Homo sapiens: one gene and its partner. The protein of the gene in region 2 interacts with the protein of the main gene of each other region in a biochemical or structural test. Each region holds a gene or a part of one and is shown on either strand. Other genes may lie near its edges.

Region 1 (12,086 bases), on a different chromosome or scaffold from region 2:
ATAGGGTTAGGTAGTTTGAGGGCTTGAGACTTTTAATGGACTTGGGTAGGGGCTTTAGGGGCCTCTTGGCCCGGGGCTGACTGCACCTCATGGTGCCAATGGAGAGATGACCGTAGGAGCCTCCTGGAGATGTGCATCGCGAGTTGATGAAAGCTACGAGGGAGCTGGGTGAGGTGCGGATAACCGTCTGCAGGTCCAGGCTGGCATCCGACAGAGGTGAGATGGACAGTGCCCGCTTCTTGGTCAACTTGACTGCACTCCGGGGAGAAGAAAAGAGTGGGCCTGGGGCAGGAGACAGCGGAGACGGATATGGTAAAGGGGCATGTCTCTCCATGCACCTAACCTATGGGTCCTGACTTGGCAAAACCAATGATACTTGATTCTGCTTTGCCCTATTGATGCTATCTGTGACTTTTTTTTTTTTTTTTTGAGAGACACAGAGTCATGCTCTGTAACCCAGGCTGGAGTGCGTGGCACCATCTTGCCTCACTGCAACCTCTGCGTTCCCAGGTTCAAGTGATTCTCCTGCCTCAGCCTCCCCTGTAATCGGCACTACAGGTGCAAGCCACCACGCCCGGCTAATTTTTGTATTGTTAGTAGAGACAGGGTTTCACCATGTTGGCCTGGCTGGTCTTGAATTCCCGACCTCAAGCGATCTTCCTGCCACGGCTTCCCCACAAAGTGCTGGGATTACAGGCGTGAGCCACCGCGCCCGGCCCCATCTGTGACTTCTTGATGGTGCTCTGACGCCTCACATCTCCAAGCATCTCCTCCTCCAAGTGAGATCCCCTGCCCTCCCACTTTCTCTTTCAGAACAAGTCAGAGAGGGGCAGAAAGGGAAGAGGTGTTGCCTGAGCCCTCACCCTCGGTGCAGCTGTTGGTCTCTCTGGCTGGCCCATAACTGTGGGGGCCGGACATGAGGTTAGCTTGGTGGCAGAAGGGCGGGCCAGACAGTCCTAGAAAAAAGAGACAGCTGGAATGGGAATGGAGGATACATAAACCTCACCTTAAAACCCCAGACATGACCTGATCCCAGATTCCAGGTCCATATGACATGGGGCCTCAAATCCTCCTGTAGATAGGAAACTGGCATGGGGTGGGGGTGGGCCCAAGTGGGAGATCTGCCAAATCCTCAAGGCCCAGGGATTGGTATATACACTGACCTTCTGTCCCCACACTGGGGGCCCCCTGACTGGGGAGGGGCCGGAGACAGCAGGGCTCGCCATAGCTACTGATTGGTGGTGGGGTCATCGAGTTGAACATGGCGTCTCAGAGGAGGGTGTGGGGACACTGCAGAAAGGGAAGGTAGGTATAAAGGTGGAGGAAATAGAGACTGTCAGACAGCAGTCTCAGGCACAGAATCCTGGGCAGAACATCCCTGGTATCCCCCACCCCTCTAAGACATCTGCCACGGAATTCGAGTTGAAAAGAGCATCACTGAGCCGGGCACAGTGGCTCACGCCTGTAATTCCAACGCTTTGAGAGGCTGAGGCGGGAGGATCACCTGAGGTCAGTTGAAGACCAGCCTGGCCAACATGGTGAAACCCCCGTCTCTACAAAAAAACAAAAATTAGCCAGTCATGATGGCGGGTGCCTGTAATCCCAGCTACTCGGAAGGCTGAGGCAGAAGAATCGCTTGAACCTGGGAGGCGGAGGTTTCAGTGAGCCGAGATGGTGCCACTGCACTCCAGCCTGGGTGACAGAGCTAGACTCCGTCTCAAAACAAAAAAAGCATCACTCGCTGAGTGAGGGGAGGGGTAAGGGGAAATGATGTCCCAGAGAGGCAGAGGCAGTCTTGTAGTCTGTGTACTCTGGGGATCTTCTTGGGAACTGGGTGGGAGCTTTGCCTGGGTGGGAGCTTTGCCTGTGTGGTCTGTGTGTAGAAGGCATGTTTTGGACTAATTGTGCCTATATTAACTTCAAGTGATTTTAGTAACATGGACCCTCTAATTCTTCTTGCTGTAACCCTGGGCCGGCTTTGAGGGTGGGATGGGAGAACTCGTGTGATGGATCTGACTTCAAGCACTGGGCGGCTCTGCTAGAGCCCGTTCCCCCTTCCTTCTCGTGCCCCTCCCCAGGGACAGCCCGTGTACAATCTCTGCAGTGTCCAGCAGAGGGAGCCCTAGCCACAGTCCCGACACAGAGCCAGGTGGGGCCAGGAGGGAGCACAAGCCATCTGCCCTCTTAGACAGAAAACAGTGTGGAGGAGGAGGTAAGGTTCCTGAGGGGAGTCTTCTGGGTCTGTTGGGCACAAAGGTGAAAGCTGGTGTTATTCTGGGGTAGTTTAAATCAGGCCCACCTAATCTTTTTGGTCTCTGTTTTGGGGGAACAGGAAAGGAAGTATGAGGGGAGACTCTGAGAGAATGAAAAAAACAATGTGATCCTTATAAAAGCGTAGCGAGGAAGAAGGTGCTGCTGTCCGTTTTTCTTTTCAAACTCCAGTTTTGACTCCATCCCGGGTTTTCCAGTCTCCCGGGAATGAGGGTGGGGTGGGGCGGGATGGGGTGGAGAACCACCGGGAGCGGGCCGGGCCGGCCGGCGCGGTGGGTGATCCCGGGATGCTGGGATTTAGGGTGAGGGCGGGGTGAGATGGGGAGCGGAACCCGGACCCCGCGACCCAGCCCGGCCCGGCAGCCTGGGCTGTACCCTTTTCTAACTCCTCCTTTTCCAACCGAGGTGCGGATCCCGCATCCAAGACCTCCCAACTCGACCTTGGAACTAATGTTGGGGGGCGGGGGGCACAGCTGGTTGGCAGCTGGATGGGGGGACAATTCTCCCGCCTCCTTCCCTCTATGACTCACCCAGGGGAAGGAGGGAAGTTTGCAAATGATCCCCCAAACACTAGAGACTCCCCCAAACTTGCCTACTCAGTCATCTTTCTGCCCCACTGCCTAGCTGCCGAAGAGCCTCCAAGGAAATGGGGCTACACCCCTCCTCGCCCACGCGTTCCACAGCCCACCCATATCTCCCCTTCAGGCTAGTAAAAGGAAAATGTCGCCAACTTTTTTAGCTTCGGTAAAGTTTTTCTGGGGTGTGAGAGTTCGGGATGGGACAGGGAGCTCTAGGGTTCCCCTGCCGGAGCCCTAAACCATCTTCGGTGTCTCCCTGTTTTCCAGCGTCCCCCTCGCACCCCCGCTCCCCAACTCCCAGGAGTCGGCTCCGCCCCCCTACTCCCGGTCCCGCCTTCCCCGCCCCCGTGCCTCCTCGGCCCACCCAAGTCGCCGCCGCAGGCACTGGCTGCAGACGGCTCCGCTCCCCCCACCCGCCCCGGGAGCCCAGTAGAGCGAGCCATAGGGGTGGGGGCTGAGGGGCGGGCCACATTCTTCCCTCCTCCTCTCAGCACATCCGGAAAGCAGGCAGTGGCGCCCAGGGGGGCACTACTGGAGAGTGGGGGTCCCCGTTGGTGGGGTTAGAAAGGGAGAAGAATCCAGAAAGTATAGGGGAGAGAAAGCAGAGAAAGTGACTGGGTCAATAAAATTAGGTGTGTATGGGGAGGAGGAGGGGCCCGGACACCTTAGGTTGCTGGTTATAGCAGCCGGCTTCCCAAGGGTTAACCCCTCCAGACCCCCGGGAACCCCCTGGTGACGTCAAGGGCGGGGATGCCAGGGAGATAATGGTGGAGGGGGAGAGGTCTCTGGACCCCGCCCCCTAGGGAAAACCACACTTATTCCGACCCTTACATATCCCCCGGGAAACCGCCCGCCTTCTCCCTCTACTGGAACGTAAAGACCTATCCTAGAAGACCCCAGCTCTCCAGACCCCTAAAACCCTCAGTCCCCAGGCTCTACGGGGTCCCCTTTCCGTAATCCTGTCCCGAAAGCTAGCTGCCCAGTGCTGATTGTTTCGGGGTCATGGGACCTGAAAGAGGATTCAGAGCGGGGAGCAAGGGCAGGCAGGGTGGTCTGAGCCAGAGGAGGGGCCTCGATCCCCAGCTCCCGTTTGGGCGGGGTGCCAACGGGGATACACAGGCTGGCAGTGGCCAGTGGTCCCGCCCAGCCCCGGTAGGGGTCTCCCTGCGGCTGGCTCCCGCTGCCCCGGTGGTCCTGAGGTCAGAGGGTCAAGACAAGGTCTCCCCGGCTCCTCCTGAGCTCCTTGCCCACAGCCCTTGGGACTCAGGAGTCCAAATTGCATGGGGTCATTCTAGGGCCTTCACTAGACCTTGGACAGCCCCCCCCCGCCCCAGCCCCCTTCCAAGTCCAGAAGACACTCCTTTCCCCTAAAGCACAAGCATCCACTGGCACATCTGTCACAAGACAGGTCAAAGGTTCAAGCCTGGCTGGCCCCTAGTGGCTCTGTTGCCTCCCACACACCCGTCCCCACCCCACCTGGAGCTCCCTCCTTTGCAGTCCCCACCTTTCAGAAACACTGACATCTTCCTACCCCACGCGCAGACACACACCTGGGGTTACCTCTCTACAACGCAGACCTCCAGCTAGCCATCCCTCCAGCCTCTTAAACTTAACCGCATGAAAGTAAGATATTTCTAATATATGGGAGAGGCGGAGACAAAGACCCACGGTTCCCTGAGACAGAGATACACAGACTGACAGAAGAAAAAAAGGGAAGAAAAAGAAGATACAGAGAAAGACACAAGTGAAAAATCTGGAGTTTCTAATGTCTCACCCCAGGCTCTCCCACCCCTATTTTGCCTCTATGTCCCGGGTCTGGGATGAGTCCCTAAGAAGCTGAGCATCCCCTCAGGCCCCCTCCCCCACTGCTCCCAGGTGGTCCCCCGCCTGCCCCCCCTTCTCACCTCTGTCTGGGCGCTGGGCTCGGGATGCGCGGTCCAGGGCTGGAGTCTGGGCTGGGGGGTGTGCGGTGGGGAGGGGGGGCGGAGAGGGCCACGGCAGCGCAGCCTCGATGCCACCCCCACCCCCCCAACCTGGCCCCCAGCCCTCCCGCCGGCCCAGCCCGCCGGGCCGCAAGCCCGGACCACCCGCGAGAAGCGCAAACTTTTTTTTTCCCTTTTGCAAAAACTTTTTCTCTCTCCAGCCGCTGGCGCGCCGCCGCTCTTCCCGCTCGCCCCTCACCTCCCTTCTATTTCCCTCCCTCTTGCCGTTCTGGAGGATGAGGCGGGGTAGCTGGAAGCAAGAGAAGGGGTGCCGGGCTTATTGCACCCCCAGGACCCCCAGGATCCTCCCCCTCCCTTGAGGGACCCTATACTGCTTACGCCCCCCCCCCCGCCCCGGCTGAACACGCTGCTGTTGGTGAGTACTAAATCCCGGCTTGGATTTCTGGATCGGCTGGCCCCAAAGAGGCCCCGACAACCAGATTGAGGAAAATATTGCGGGGCAGGGGGAGAAGTTCAACCGAGAACGATAATAGTGGAGGTAGGGTAGTCGCCTTTGGTTGGTGCTAACTGAGCATTCTGCCATCCTGTGGTTTATCTGCAGGCCTCACCCTTTGGATGGAACTTGCAGCGGCCGGGACAGAGTTGCGGTTTGGGGCAAATCAAGTTGGGTTGGGGGCTCTGGAAGAAGGTGAGGAGTCTATGGAGCATAAAAGCAAGGAGCAGCGGCTGAGGCTCTGGGTGCAGGGTGTGGTTCACGAGGTCACCAAGGAGCCCTGGGACTGAAGCCCCTTTCCCTAGAACCCCGGCTCTACGTCTCGAAGTTCTGGAGGGTGCCGCCCCTCCGCACCACGTCACTGCAGGCTCTAGCTGCTCTTCCAGGCTTTCTGCTCCCTCTGCTGGCCGTTCTCACACATGACACCCGCTCGGAGTCGAAGCAGAAGAGCTGGGGAACTGAAGGAGGAGCCCAGTTGAAGGAGGAGCCCCTCACTAAAGCCCACTTAAAAGCCCAGGAGGTGGATATGTGAGCTCTGAGAAACGGAGAGGCAGAGGTTGCTATGCCCAGCGGTACTGCCTGACAGGGAAGTGCCCTGCCTCTTTAGATTTGCATTGCCATCGTGACCGGATATAAGGGAGGGGCAGCATTTCAGTCTCTGATTTTTATGAGAAAGAGGAGGAAGCATGACAAGGAAAAAGGGCACCCTCTCCCCTTTTTTTCAACCCCACAGGCAGACCTCCCACATCCTAGCTCTGCTTCCAAGAACCACCCCCTTGGGTGTGGAAGGTCAGTGGGTTAACTGTTCAGTCTGAGGGTCAAGGGGGAAAAGAAAAGGTGAAGGTAGGGGGAGATCTGGGACTTTGACCCAGGCTAGTTATCCCCAGAGGGTCAGAGACCCAGCTCAGTCAGACCAGACTAATGGGCACTGAAAAAAAGGCACCCCACACATGCTCCTGTCCCAGCCTCGAGCCCCTTCTTCCAGAGGAGCTATTTATGTATTTATGTATTTATTTATTTTTATTTGGGACGGGGCCTCACTATTTGCCCAGGCTGGAGTGCAGAGGCTATTCACAAGTGTGATCATAGCCTCGAACTCCTGGGTTTAAGCGGTCTTCCGGCCTTAGCCTCCTAAGTAGCTGGGACCACCGGTGCCCAGCAAGAAGAGCTCTCTTAGAACACCTTACTTTCTTCTCCCCACCCAGTTCTATAGACCAGTGAGTCTCAAACTTTTTGGTTTCCTCTATACTCTTAAAAGTCATTAGGTTAGGCACAGTGGCTCAGACCTGTAATCCCAGCACTTTGGGAGGCCAAGGCAGGCGGATCACCTCAAGTCAGGAGTCCGAGACCAGCCTGGCCAACATGGTGAAACCCCATCTCTACTAAAAATACAAAAAATAGCTGGGCATGGTGGCGCAGGCCTGTAGTCCCAGCTACTCAGGAGGCTGAGGCAGGAGAATCGCTTGAACCTGGGAGGTGGAGGTTGCAGTGAGCCGAGATTGTGCCACTGCACTCCAGCCTGGGCGACAGAGCGAGACTCCGTCTCAAAAAAAAAAAAATCATTGAGCTTTTGTTCATATGATTTACATCTATCAATTCACCACATTAGAAATTAAAACTGAAAAAGACTGTAACACAAGACCATACAAGCACACATTCCATTAACAATGATGTCAGAAAGATGATGTAATCACATGTCACACGGCCTCTGGAAAACTCCACAATACAATTTTAAGATAATGAGAATTCAAAAGGCAAATAACATGTTAGTATTATTATGAAAATAGCTTTGACTTTGTGGACACCCCTGAAAAGGGACCTCCCAGAAGCCTACAGAGTACACTTGAAGAACTGTTGCTCTGGACCATCACCCTAACCCTTCTTTATGACTCACATTTGTTGATTTTCTTTCTCCTTTTTATTAAGAAAGTATAAGCCAGGCGCGGTGGCTCACGCCTATAATCTCATCACTTCGGGAGGCCAAGTCGGGTGGATCAAGAGGTCAAGAGATTGAGACCATCCTGGCCAACATGTTGAAACCTCGTTTCTACTAAGAATACAAAAATTAGTGGGCGCCTGTAATCCCAGCTGCTCGGGAGGCTGAGGCAGAAGAATCACTTGAACCCAGGAGACGGAGGTTGCAGTGAGCCAAGATCGTGTCACTGCACTCCAGCCTGGTGACAGAGCGAGACTCGATCTCAAAAAAATAAAAAAGAAGAAAGAAAGTATAAATGCTTGTCTCCCAGTGGGTCCTGTCCCCTGGGAAAAACCAGGGAACTTCTTAGGCTTAGTGCCTCATTTTCCTGACTCCTGTTTCTGGGGGTCCCCTAAGCATCCTCCCTCAGCGCCTTGCCCATCTCCCTCTTGACCTTCCCTTAAGGTACCTCAACAGCCCTTACCCTGGGCCAGCCTGCTTACCCTGCTTCAAGCCTGCTGGACCATCTATCTGCTTCCTCCTCCCCTCACTTGAGGACTTTCTCATCTTGGGAGAGGCTAAGTAATTTTTCTCTGCCTTCCCTCCCTCCCTCCCTAGTCCCTGACATCTTCTCACAGGACTTAGGGCAGGAAATCATGCTTTCTGGGTAGACCCCTTTAGAAGAAACGCTTTACCCATCTCCCAACACATCAGCCAACCTGGAATAAGCCAGAGTCTCAGACAAGAAAGTGCCCATTTGGGTCCCATAGGGGTCAAGTGAGTCATATTGCCAGGTGGTTGTTGGGTTGGGGTGTGGATCAGGAATCTGATGCCTCCAGTCACAGATGCCCTGTGCCTGGGAAACTTCATCTTGGTCTCTTCACTCCAAAGCCCCAGGTCCTCTTGCTAGCTGCAGCCACAGGCCTCCACCACCATATCTGGCACATCCGTCTTGACCACATTGCCATTATGATCCAGGTAGAGGAGAGAGAGGGGCCTTCGGGCAGTAGGGACACAACAGGAGGTACTGGCAGGCCAAGGATTGTTGGCTTTGAGGAGGCTGAAGACGGCAGAATGGAAAGAGGCAGCAATGCCTGGGCTGCCAGCCAGGTGGGGAGGGCACTGCCCACTGCAGTAATTCAGCTGGTACCCCTCGGGCTGCAGTATCCAGTCCCGCCATCCCAGTTCCTGGAAGTCTACGTAATGGTCTCGCCTGCAACATAAGGGGGTCGCAGGCTCACAGGTGGGGGTCCTCCTCCTGGCCCGGCCTGCTCCAGGCTCATTGGCTCGGATCTTAAGCTCTAGGAAGGGCTGCTGGTGTCCTGCTGTGTCCAAGAGCCGCCTCGGTTGTCCAGTAACTGTGCTGTTGCCTTCTAGGGGTCTGCAGTCTAGTTGCAGTTTCAGGACACCAGACTTCTCACCCCTCAAGCCACTAGAGGGCAGAGTTAAGGTATGCCAGCCCAGGTTGGTGATGTGGTGCTCAGCCAGGAGAGTGCGGGACCCTTGGCGCCTCCTCCTTGGTCCCCATCGGAAGATCCTCAAGCAAAGAGTGCCAGGAAGGGTGGGGAGCACGTGCAGCCACAGGCGGGCATGGTACAGGTGGTGGGACCGAGGAGTGGACAGGTGAAAAGTGAGCAGGGAGCTGTAGGCTGAAGTGGAGTCTGCCCGAAAGACAGAAAAGGGAAAGAAAATGTGAGTAGAGATGAAGCTCTCCTCTGAGACTCCCCAAGCCCTGCCCACTGCTCTCCCTCGAACCTACCTCTAGAAAAGTAGAGACTGCTTTGTGTCCTCTGCAACCAGTCCCTGCCCCAGCTCCTCCTTCTCCTGCCACACCCCACTCCCTCTGCTGCTCCTGCCAGGCTCCCCTTCTGCCTCCCTTTCCCTGTCTGCTCTTTGCCTGTTGCTCTCTCCCTCACCCACCTGTGACAGTAGCAAAGCTGATGACCTCCTCCCCATTCCCTGGAGCCACACTCCCTGGCTGTAGTCTCCGGAGGGCTCTGGTCAGCGCTGCCTGGGGTGGAGGATGAGTTATTCTGGGACGACTGGTCAGGTGCAACCCATCCAGGATTTGCTGCTTGGCTAGCTCCAGCACCAGAGCTCGTTCTGCTTGGGGTGCCAGTTTGGAGCCCCCACAGGAGGGACACACAGACCCTGTCCCCTGTGCTCGCACCAGTGCCCACAGCAGCACCAGCCAGAGCTGGACATCAGGGAGCCGCATGCTCCTGGTGAATGGCCCTGGTTCAGGAGCCTCGGATGGCAGTTGCTCCGTCTGTTGAGTCTGATTGCTGGGGGCCAATGAGGGCACAGTGACAGCAGACACCACTGCCACACCTACCCTTGGCCAAGGGTACAGCCACCTGTCTTCTATTGTCTGGGACTCAGGAAGGCTGAAAGTAGATCATCTGATGGATAGCTGTGCTTGACCCTCACAGCTCATGTCTGGCTACTGACCTGGGGCCTCTTTAGAGCCAGCTGCCTGGGTCTTCCAAACCTAGTGGTCAGCCAGCCGACCTACCCTCTGAGTCCCAGGATTGGCCAGCTGTGCTGCCCATCAGGCCCCTGCAGGGGGTGGAGGTCCTCCTCCCCATCAGCTCAGGTTTCACCATCTGGCCATGGTGACTGGGCCTGAAGTAGGGGTATGGGGGTGGGGGGGTGCAATGTGGACACGCATGATGCAAGAAAGAGGATGATTTCACATGCTCAGTCCCCAAGGTCTGGGACTTGGGGGAGGGAACGCCTTATGAGCCAGGTGGGGAAGGGCAATTTTCCCTCATACCTCTAGTCTTTCTAGCTTCACCACTGCTGCAGCAGTTTCCATGAGGCAGCTGTGAGTTCCAGTGGGTATTCCTCTGGGGCCCTTAGGCCAGAAGGAAAATTCTGGTCTCTTTATTTCTAGCACTGGGGCTAGGACAGGGATGAGGGTTTGGGCGGGTAGGAGAATGGAGCCCTCTTGCTCAGGCCCAGGTGGCAGTGCCACGAGGCACAGAAGTCACCCCCTGACCCTGCCTGTGCTGGCCGCCCAGAGTCCAGTTGGCCTGGAGCATGATGTGGAGCATGATGTGGAGGAGGGCCAGAGCCGGCGGGGGTTGGGGCGGGGAACGTGTTCCTGTGATGTCTGGGGAAGCCCAGAGAGGTGGTGGTGGTGGTGATGCAATCTTACACAGGGCAGAGTCCATCAGGACTGTCAGGGGGCATGACACTTGGGAGGGCCTATACCCAGCTGCCACTTCTCTTTCAAGGGACTGTGAGAGTTGCCTAAATTTGGGGCATCCTAGAAGTAGTGCCAGGCCTCCTTTTTTTCTTACATTTTTAAAATTTAAATTTTATTTTATTTTACTGAGGTAAGGTCTCAATCTGTTGTTCAGGCTGGAGTGTAGTGGCACAATCATAGCTCACTGCAGCCTTGAATTCCTGGGCTCAGACAATCCTTCTGCCTCAGCCTCCTTAGTAGTTGGGACTACAGGTGCGCACCACCACACCTGGCTAATTTTTAAATTTCCCACAGAGACAGGGTCTCGCTATGTTGCCCAGGCTGGTCTTGAACTCCTGGGCTCAAGCAATCCACTTGCCTCAGCCTCCTAAAGTGCTGAGGTTACAGGCGTGAGCCACCGCACCACCCTTCAGGCCTGTTAATGGGGGTAGAAAATGGGAGCTCTAAGAGCTTTTGACAACAAAGCAAGGCAAATACAGCAGTCTTGGTTCCCAGTCTCAGCCCTCCTGACCACATTTTCTCACTGTCTTTATTTTATTTTATTTTATTTTATTTTTTGAGGCTGAGTCTCGCTCTGTCGCCCAGGCTGGAGTGCAGTGGCACAATCTCGGCTCACTGCAAGCTCCACCTCCCGGGTTCACACCATTCTTCTGCCTCAGCCTCCCGAGTCGCTGGGACTACAGGTGCCAGCCACCACGCCCGGCTAGTTTTTTGCATTTTTAGTAGAGACGGGGTTTCACTGTGTTAGCCAGGATGGTCTCCATCTCCCGACCTCATGATCTGCCCGCCTCGGCCTCCCAAAGTGCTGGGATTACAGGCATGAGCCACCGCACCTGACCTATTTTTTATTTTATTTTTTATGTTTTTGAGACAGGGTCTTACTCTGTCATCCAGGCTGGAGTGTGGTGGCCTGATCACAGCTCACTGCAGCCTTGACCTCCTGGGTTAAGTGATTCTTCCACCTCAGCTTCCAGAGTAGCTAAGTCTACAGGTGCGTGCCACCACACCAACCACACCACACCACACCACACAGGCTAATTTATTTTTTATTCTTTTGTAGAGACAGGGTCTTGCTGTGTTGCCCAGGGTGGTCTCAAGCTCCTGGGCTCAAGCGATCCTCTCACCTCAGCGTCCCAAGGCGCTAGGATTATAGACATGAGCCACCACACCCAGTCCTCACTGGCTTTAAATGGGGGGGGACCCAGACCCCTCCACATTGAATTCATGAAGGTGGGCCTCATGCTAGCTTTTCTCCTTATGCCCCAATTTCTCCAAGAAGCTTGATGGGGAGAAAGCTGTGGGGGAAGTGGGTGTGATTTGGAAATGTGTCTTTACTCCACTTTGCTCATCTCCCCTCTGTTTAGATGATGGGGGCTGTCAAGAGAGACTATTAGATCTAGGCGACAGGGTTCCTAATTGGAAGGCTGGACCTCAGTACCACCAGTGTCCACCATGTGGCAGTGCCGTGCCTCTGGACAGCAGCTGGCTTGTAGCTGGCTGGAGCTTCCCAGGGACAGGGAAGGGGCAGCTCTGGGGAATGGAGTGATGAGGAGTGCCCCTCGACCTCTCACTCTGGGGACGCTGCCTCCCCCACAAGAGACAGGGACAAGCTGGTTCCTTTGTTCTTTCCCCATCACACTGCCAGAGAAGAGAGACTGTCTTCAGGATCCACATC
Region 2 (8,597 bases):
TAATCAAAATGTCCCTCAACTGATGAATAGATATATAAAATGTGGTATTATCCATAAAATGGAATACTACTCAGCCGTAAGGAATAAAGTAGTGACACATGCGCAGCAGGGATAACCCTTGGAAACATTACGTTAAGTGAAACCAGACACAAATGGCCACGTACTGTATAATTCCATTGCTATGAAATATTAATAGAGAAATCCAGAGACAGAAAGTAGATTAGCAGTTGCCAGGGGCTGGGCGAGGGGGGAAAATGGGAAGTGACTAACAGATGCTCAGTTTCCTTTTAGGATAATGAAAAGTTCTGGAACCAGACAGTGGTGATGGTTGTACAACACTATAAAGGTACTGAAACCCACCGAATTGTGCACTTTAAAATGGTAAACACTGTCATATGTATTTCCCAGGTATTTTTTTAATGAAATGAAGTGCTGAAACATGCTACAACATGGATGACCCTTAAATACATAAGTAAAGGAAATCAGTCACAAAAGTCCACGTATTTTAGGATTCCATTTATATGAAATGTCCAGAATAGGGAAATTTAGAGGCGGAACATACAGGGCATACAGAGCCAAGATAAGATAATTTTTTTTTTTTTTTTTTTTTTGAGACTGAGTCTCGCCCTGTTGCCCAAGCTGGAGTGCAGTGGCGTGATCTCGGCTCACCGCAACCTCCACCTCCCGGGTTCCAGGGTTCTCCTGCCTCAGCCACCCCAGTAGCTGGGATTACAGGCGCCCGCCACCACCCCCGGCTAATTTTTGTATTTTTAGTAGAGACGGGGTTTCACCATGCTGGCCAGGCTGGTCTCGAACTCCTGACCTCGTGATCCGCCCATCTCGGCCTCCCAAAGTGCTGGGATTACAGGCATGAGCCACCGCACCCGGCCTATTCTTTTTTCTTTTAAAATTTTTATTTTAAAAATTTATTTTTTTAAATTTATCCAGCGTCTCACGACGCTGTCTCGAAAAAAAAAAAAGTATCGGCCTGGCGGGCGGTGGCTCACGCCTGTAATGCCAGCACTTTGGGAGGCCAAGGCGGTCAAATTATCTGAGGTCAGGAGTTCGAGACCAGCCTGACCAACATGGAGAAACCCTGTCTCTACTAAAAATACAAAAAATAAAAATAATAAAAAAAAATTAGCCGGGCATGATGGTGCATGCCTGTAATCCCAGCTATTCAGGAGGCTGAGGCAGGAGAATCGCTTGAACCAAGGAGGCAGAGGTTGCAGTGAGCCGAGATCACGCCATTGCACTCTAGCCTGGGCAATAAGAGCGAAACACCGTCTCAATAAATAAATAAATATCAGAAATTGGCCCAGCATGGTGGCTCACGCCTGTAATCCCAGAAGAGGTGGGCAGATCGCTTGAGCCCAGAGCTCGAGACCAGCCTGGCCAACATGGCGAAAACCCGTCTCCACTAAAAATACAAAACTGAGTCGGGCGTGGTGGCCCGTGCCTCTAATCCCAGCTACTCCGGAGGCCGAGGTGGGAGGATCGCTTGAGCCTGGGAAACGGAGGTTGCAGTGAGCCGAGCTCGTGACACTGCACTCCAGCCTGTGTGACAGAGTGAGACCCTGTCTCAAAAACCACCAGAACTATTAGTAGTTTACATTATTTGGTTAGTCTGGAAACTAATTACGTTGAGAAACTGACTGAAGCTTGATTATTTCTATTATACACAGACTTCAAACATTCCAGAACTTACTGTTAAAGTCAGATTTACCCTCCTTGTGAGACAGACGCCCAGAGCTTGGACTTATTCGTTTGCTTTATAGAAACTCCCTAACTTATTTCACTTCTCATACTAGACTTTAAGCTCCAAAGCCAGAGACCATGACTTCCATTCCTTCCGGATCCCCCAGCGGAATGTAAAAACTCCAGAAAGCATTTCCTAAATGCCTGCCGAAAGACGGCTACTGAGCATGCCCGGCTTGGCCAAGTCAATTTCAACAACATTCTGAAACAAAAACTATAGTTCCCGCGTTACAAGGTGGAAAAAAGGGAATAAACGGGAGCAAAGCCTAAGGATTCAATCTATATGAGGGGGTTAAGGAAAGGTAAAGTTCAAGGGCGGCGCAGACGTGAAGGACAGCACTATCACAGCTTAAACTTGGTACTCGGTAAACTGGTGTCGAACCAGAACGACCAAAGAAAGGCTTAAAAAAAATACTAGATTAACGAGTGAGGGAAGGCCAACGGGGGTGCAGGGTATCGATGACGTAGGCTGACCACAGTTTTTTCTAAAGCTGCCCTCTACAAAAATAATACTAAGATGATCAGGCCTTCGGTGTCAACACCAACAAGATACACTGTGATGAAGCTCACTTCCAAAAAGTTCCTTTTTACAAACGAAAGAGCCGTGCTGTGGCCAAGATACCCCAACCATCAACGCTTGCTAAGCTCTCAGCTCCTGCCTTCATCTCCACCGCCATCTTCTGGATGGGAACCCAAACCTTCCTAAAGTGCTTTGGCCAGCATCACCTCCGCGCACAGCCCGGGAAGCCTGCGTTTCCCAGGTCGCGCAGACGGCGCAAAGGGGGAAACTCCACCTCGCTCGGCTCCGCGCCTCCCAAATGCACGCAAAGGGCTGCCGTCTTCCTTTCCCCTACCCCGCCCGGGCTTTCCAAGGTCCGGCGCGAGGAGCCCGCGAGGCGCGGTGCGCGGGCCTCACCTGCACACGCCGCGAATGCAGGGCTCCAGCCAGATGCGGTAAGCGGTCTCGATGTGCTCCTGCGACACCTCCTCGGGCCGCACCGTCTCCGCCCAGCGCCAGGCCGCCTTCTCCAGCTGCAGCCGCGGGGCCATGGCCTTGGCCCCAGGAACGCCTCCCGAGCCAGACCGCCGCAGCCGCCGCCGCGGTCTGCACCGCCGCCCCAATGGGCTTCGCCACCTGCCAGCAAGGAGGACCTGGCGCTCCTTCAGGCAGCTGGCCAGTCAATCACCTGTGCGCGCCACTGCCGCCGCGCCCGCCCGCGCCCGACCCGCACGACCGGCCGCAAAGCGCCGCCGTCGACACCCGACACACCCCGCGCCCGCGGACGTTAAAGGTGGACTCCCCGCCGCGCTGAGCGCATGCGCGTTCCCAGCAGCCTCTGCGCCTCCCGCGCCCCTAACCCGACGGGCTGAGGTAGAGGAAGCGTACGTCCGAGGCGGTCTTGCCACGTCCTCACTGGCACTTCTGGAAAAGCAGCGTCTCAGCCCCCGTTCAGGGCGGCGCACTACGTACCACTACTCTAACAAACCAGTGCCTCGAAAGCTATTTCTTGCCTCCGGTACTTCCCTTTTAACCATGAAGTTTTCACGCTAGAGGCTACTCAACGCACACACAGGCCCGCCCAGACTGTGGAGCGGGACCTGTTTAGAGTAGAAACCGAGTCGCCAAAGAAACCAGTGTTGGCTCTTTAGAGGGAGATTTAACTTGAGCCTAGACCGGTTCCGAACCCCTTTCCCGAGCCCTCCTGACGTCATGGGACCTTCCGGCCTTTTCCCGTGCTAGGGTGGGACTACGTGTCCCGGCATGCCCTGCGTCCTGCCACTGACTGTGAGGCATGCTGGGATTTGTAGTCTTCGAGGTGGGAGTGCTCAGTGCGCCGCAGACTGTGCGGGCGGGGGTCCGAGGTGCCAGGGTGGAGTTTCTCTGGTGCGCAAGGTCATGTTTGCTGTTGGCTCCCTTCTCAAGACTGTTACCTCTATGCCAGGATTTTCTAGTTCCTCTCTAGCTCCTGGTTTAAAACATTTCCTTTCTGCGACTCCTGCCCCAGGACATAAAGAGTAGCTTTATGAGAATTGTTTTGCAAACTGTAAAGAACTCTACTAAAGTGAGGATATTTAAGAATTTTGAATTTGAATTAGAGCTCTGCCAGAATCTAAGCGCTAACTTCTGACTCAGCTGCTTGCCTGCTGGAAAACCTTAGGCTGAATTCTTTAGATAAACATTCACTGGGCCGAGCACCGTGGCTCAAGGATCCAATCCCAGCACTTTGGGAGGCCGAGGTGGGCGGATCACCTGAGGTCAGGAGTTCGAGGCCAGCCTGACCAAAATGGAGAAACCCCGTCTCTACTAAAAATACAAAATTAGCAAGGCGCGGTCGCGCATGCCTGTAATCCCAGCTAGTCGGGAGGCAGAGGCAGGAGAATCGCTTGAACCCGGGAGGCGGAGGTTGTGGTTAGCCGAGATAACGCCATTGCACTCCAGCCTGGGCAACAAGAGTAAAACTCCGTCTCAAAAAAAACAAAAAAATTCGCTGAAGGCAGAAGAAAGTAAGATGTGGTCCCTGCCCTTGGAAGTGGGTTAGGGAGTGAGCGGTAGAAATACAAAGATCCCCATCCCAGTCTTGGGAGGCTTCGGGGTACTTGAGAAAAGGCTTCCCAGAAGTAATTCCGAAGCCCGCTTTTAACGGGTGAGTTGGACTTATCCAGGATAGAAGAAAGACACCATTCCAGAAAAAAAGAAACCACAAGGAGCAAAGGCACAGAAGAGAAAAGCTTGGCGTGAGAGGGCCACAATTTCTGAGACAGGGACAGGTGAGAGTTATGGCTTGAAAGGAAGACCTTGCCGCCGGGCGCGGTGGCTCACGCCTGTAATCCCAGCACTTTGGGAGGCCAAGGCGGGCGGATCACGAGATCAGGAGATCGAGACCATCCTGGCTAACACGGTGAAACCCCCTCTCTACTAAAAATACAAAAAAAATAGCCGGGCGTAGTGGCGGGCGCCTGTAGTCCCAGCTACTCTGGAGGCTGAGGCAGGAGAAGGGCGGGAACCCAGGAGGCGGAGCTTACAGTGAGCGGAGATCGCGCCACTGCCCTCCGGCCTGGGCGACTGAGCGAGACTCTGTCTCCAAAAAAAAAACAAAAACAAAACAAAACAACAATAACAACAACAATAAAACAACAATAACAACAAAAAAAAAAACAAAAAAAGGAAGACCTTTATTCAAAGTACCCACTGAAGATATACAGCTGTTGAGTGCTATAATGGAGATTTGCATTTTGTATAGTGAGGCAGAGAAGACTTTTTTTTTTCCTGAGACGGAGTTTTGCTCTTGTTGCCCAGGCTGGAGTGCAATGGTGTGGTCTGGGCTCACTGCAACCTCCGCCTCCTGGGTTCAAGCGATTCTCCTGCCTCAACCTCCCAAGTAGCTAGGATTACAGGCTTTTGCCACCACGCCCGCCTAATTTTTTTGTATTTTTTAGTAGAGACGGGGTTTCACTATGTTGGTCAGGCTGGTCTCGAACTCCGGACTTCAGGTGATCCGCCCACCTCGGCCTCTCAAAGTGCTGGGATTACAGGTGTGAGCTACCGCGCCTGGCCTCCTCCCCTTTTTAGACCATATAGGGTAACTTCCTGACTTTGCCATGGCATTTGTAACCTGTCATGCACTGGTGGGCATGTCTTTTAGCATGCTAATGTATAATAATTAGCGTATAATAATTAGCATATAATAAGCAGTGAGGACGACCAGAGGTCAGTCTCATGGCCATCTTGGTTTTGGTGGGTTTTAACCAGCTTCTTTACTGCATTCTGTTTTCTCAGCAATGTCTTTATGACCTGTATCTTGTGTAGACCTCCTATCTCATCCTGTGTCTAAGAATGCCTTAGGCCAGGCATGGTGGCTCATGCCTGTAATCCCAGCACTTTAGGAGGCCAAGGTGGGCGGATCACGAGGTCAGGAGTTCGAGATGAGCCTGGCCAACATAGTGAAACCCTGGGTCTACTAAAAATACAAAAATTAGCCAGGCATGGTGGCGGGCACCTGTAATCCCAGCTACTCAGGAGGCTGAGGCAGGACAATTGCTTGAACAGGAGGCGGAGGTTACAGTGAGCCAAGATCGTGGCATTGCACTCCATCCCAGGCGACGGTGGGAAACTCAGGCAAAAAAAATGTCTTCACCTCCTGGGAATGCAGCCCAGTAGGTCTCAGCCTTATTTTACCCAGCCCCCATTCAAGATAGAGTCACTCTGGTTCAAACGCCTTGGACAGAATGAGGACTTGCTACAGCTTGATGATGTTGACCTGACCGGTATATCTTCACCTTTCTGATATTTGACCTTCAAGTCTGGTCACACCCCTTTCCTCAGTATCCACAGCTCCCTGTGTCATCCCTTGCTTCACTTAGCACATGATGAAATTGTGACTATCATTCACCATGAAGACACTACTATATGGCAGTTTTCTAAATTGGATAATTAAATAGAATTTCTACCAAATGAGATAGCAACACCAGAAGAAGGAACAGATTTAGAAAGAAGATGATTTCGGCCAGGCACGGTAGCTCACGCCTGTAATCCAGCACTTTGGGAGGCCGAGGTGGACAGATCATCTGAGGTCAGGAGTTCGAGACCAGCTTGGGCAACATGGTGAAACCCTGTCTCTACAAAAATACAAAAATTTGCCAGGTGTGGTGGTAGGCACCTGTAGTCCCAGCTACTCAGAAGGCTGAAGTGGAGGGATTGCTTGAGCCCAGGAGGTCGAGGTTGCAGTGAGCAGAGATCTCACCACTGCACTCCAGTCTGGGCGACAGAGGGAGACCCTGTCTCAAAAACAAACAAACAAAACCCAAATGTGCTAATTTGCTGTAATTTCTCTGAAGTTTAACAAACCCTCTCTTGACTCCCACATCCCCCTCCAGCTACTGTCCCATTTCTCTTTTTCCCTTTATAGCAAAACTCCTGGAAAGCATTTTCTGTACTCTTCTCCAGTTCTCCTCCTATTCCTCCTTAAACCTCCCAAATCAGGTTCTTGCCTCTATCACCTCCAAAACTGCTCGTATGAAGAATGCCAATGGCCTTCACCTTGTTAAATGCAGTGGTAAACTCATACTCTATTTATTTTACTAGACCTGTTAGCAGCAATTGACCCAGTTATTCACTCTTTCCTCTTAGAAACACTTTCTTCTCTTAAATCACAGGGTGCCACACTCTCCTGGTTTTCTCTTTACTGCTGGCCATCCCTTCCGGTGTCCTTTGCAGCTTCTTTCTCCTCTAACCTGGAAACTTGAGTGGCCTAGGGTTCAGTCCTTTGGACCTCTCCTTTAACTTTGTTTACTCCCTGGGGGATCTTGTTAGAAATGCTTGTTCCCCAGTGCCGTAAAGAAGTAGCACTTACGGCCGGGCGCGGTGGCTCACACCTGTAATCCCAGCACTTTGGGAGGCCGAGGCAGGCAGATCATGAGGTCAAGAGATCAAGACCATCCTGGCCAACATGGTGAAACCCCGTCTCTACAAAAAATACAAAAAATTAGCTGGGCATGGTGGCACACGCCTGTAGTCCTAGCTACTCAGGAGGCTGAGGCAGGAGAATCGCTTGAACCTGGGAGGCAGCGGTTGCAGGGAGCCAAGATTGTGCCACTGCACTCCAGCCTGGCGACAGAGCGAGACTTCATCTAAAAAAAAAACAACAAAAAACAAATAGCACTTGAACATAAATTTAACATCCTCAGCAAGGCCATTTTTACTTTCTGCAGAAAGGGTACACTCGCCAGCAGTTTTGCCAGTAGAGTACACTGAACAAACAGGACAGGGTCATTTATAACCTGAAGCGTCCACCCTACTGCTGTGTCTGACTTCCATTGGCTGGAACAGGACCTCACATTCTATATTTGTCCTGATTGGCTAGCAACTTAGAACTTTTTAAAAGAGGCAAAGGCTGGCTGGGTGCAGTGGCTCACACCTGTAATCCCAGCACTTTGGGAGGCTGAGGGGGGCGGATCACCTGAGGTCAGGAGTTCGAGACCAGCCTGACCAACATGGAGAAACCCTGCCTCTACTAAAAATGCAAAAAAAAATTAGCCGGGCGTGGTGGCGCATGTCTGTAATCCCAGCTATCGGGAGGCTGAGGCAGGAGAATCGCTTGAACCTGGGAGGTGGAGGTTGCGGTGAGCCAAGATCATGCATTGCACTCCAGCTTGGGCAACAAGAGTGAAATTCTGTCTCAAAAAAAAGGAAAAAAAAAAGCAGAGGCAGAGGCGAACAAGGGAAGTAACCTGTGGAATGCTGAGAAAGGTAAAAACACCTTTAAATAAGGAAGAGGAACAGGCTATGACTCATGCTTGCTTGGACCAGTGTAAGCATGCCAGGGCAAATATTTAGGCTAAATTGTGGGAGCTAAGAACATAAAGTACATTGATTTCTTTATTACGGCTAGCAGATATTTAAGAATGTTAGCACAGGTCTTTGAATACATTTTGAGACGGAGTTTCACTCTTGTTGCCCAGGCTGGATGGCGCAATCTCCGCTCACCACAACCTCTGCCTCCCGGGTTCAGGCGATTCTCCTGCCTTAGCCACCCGAGTAGCTGGGATTACAGGCATGTGCCACCATGCCCGGCCAATTTTGTATTTTTTTAGTAGAGACGGGATTTCTCCACATTGGTCAGGCTGGTCTTGCACTCCTGACCTCAGGTGATCCGCCCACCTCAGCCTCCCAAAGTGCTAGGATTACAGGCGTGAGCCACCACGCCTGGGCTGAGAAGTAACTATTTATTCCTAATTAGATGGGGAGGAAAGTCTCTTTGAAGAGGAATCTCTACTTTACTTTTTACAATCTCATCTCCTCCTGCTGTGTGTGGATGACTCCTAAATTCACATCTCCAGAC

Evidence for each region.
Region 1: of the proteins of USP48 (region 2) and GLI1, one has a biochemical effect on the other in vitro, tested with the Homo sapiens proteins (one study listed by BioGRID).

Annotation. Positions count from the first base shown.
Region 1 is NC_000012.12:57,452,869-57,464,954, reverse strand, and holds the start of GLI1 (zinc finger protein GLI1), read right to left. Parts: upstream 5,171-12,086; 5' UTR 4,754-5,170; intron 4,679-4,753; exon of another isoform or gene 4,400-4,678; intron 2,213-4,399; exon of another isoform or gene 1,983-2,212; intron 1,291-1,982; 5' UTR 1,264-1,290; coding exon 1,164-1,263; intron 957-1,163; coding exon 864-956; intron 283-863; coding exon 87-282; intron 1-86. Other genes in the region: INHBE (inhibin beta E chain preproprotein), read right to left, coding at 8,107-8,861, 9,121-9,418. UniProt on the Homo sapiens protein: Acts as a transcriptional activator. Binds to the DNA consensus sequence 5'-GACCACCCA-3'. Regulates the transcription of specific genes during normal development.
Region 2 is NC_000001.11:21,780,150-21,788,746, forward strand, and holds the start of USP48 (ubiquitin carboxyl-terminal hydrolase 48), read right to left. Parts: upstream 3,001-8,597; 5' UTR 2,809-3,000; coding exon 2,675-2,808; intron 1-2,674.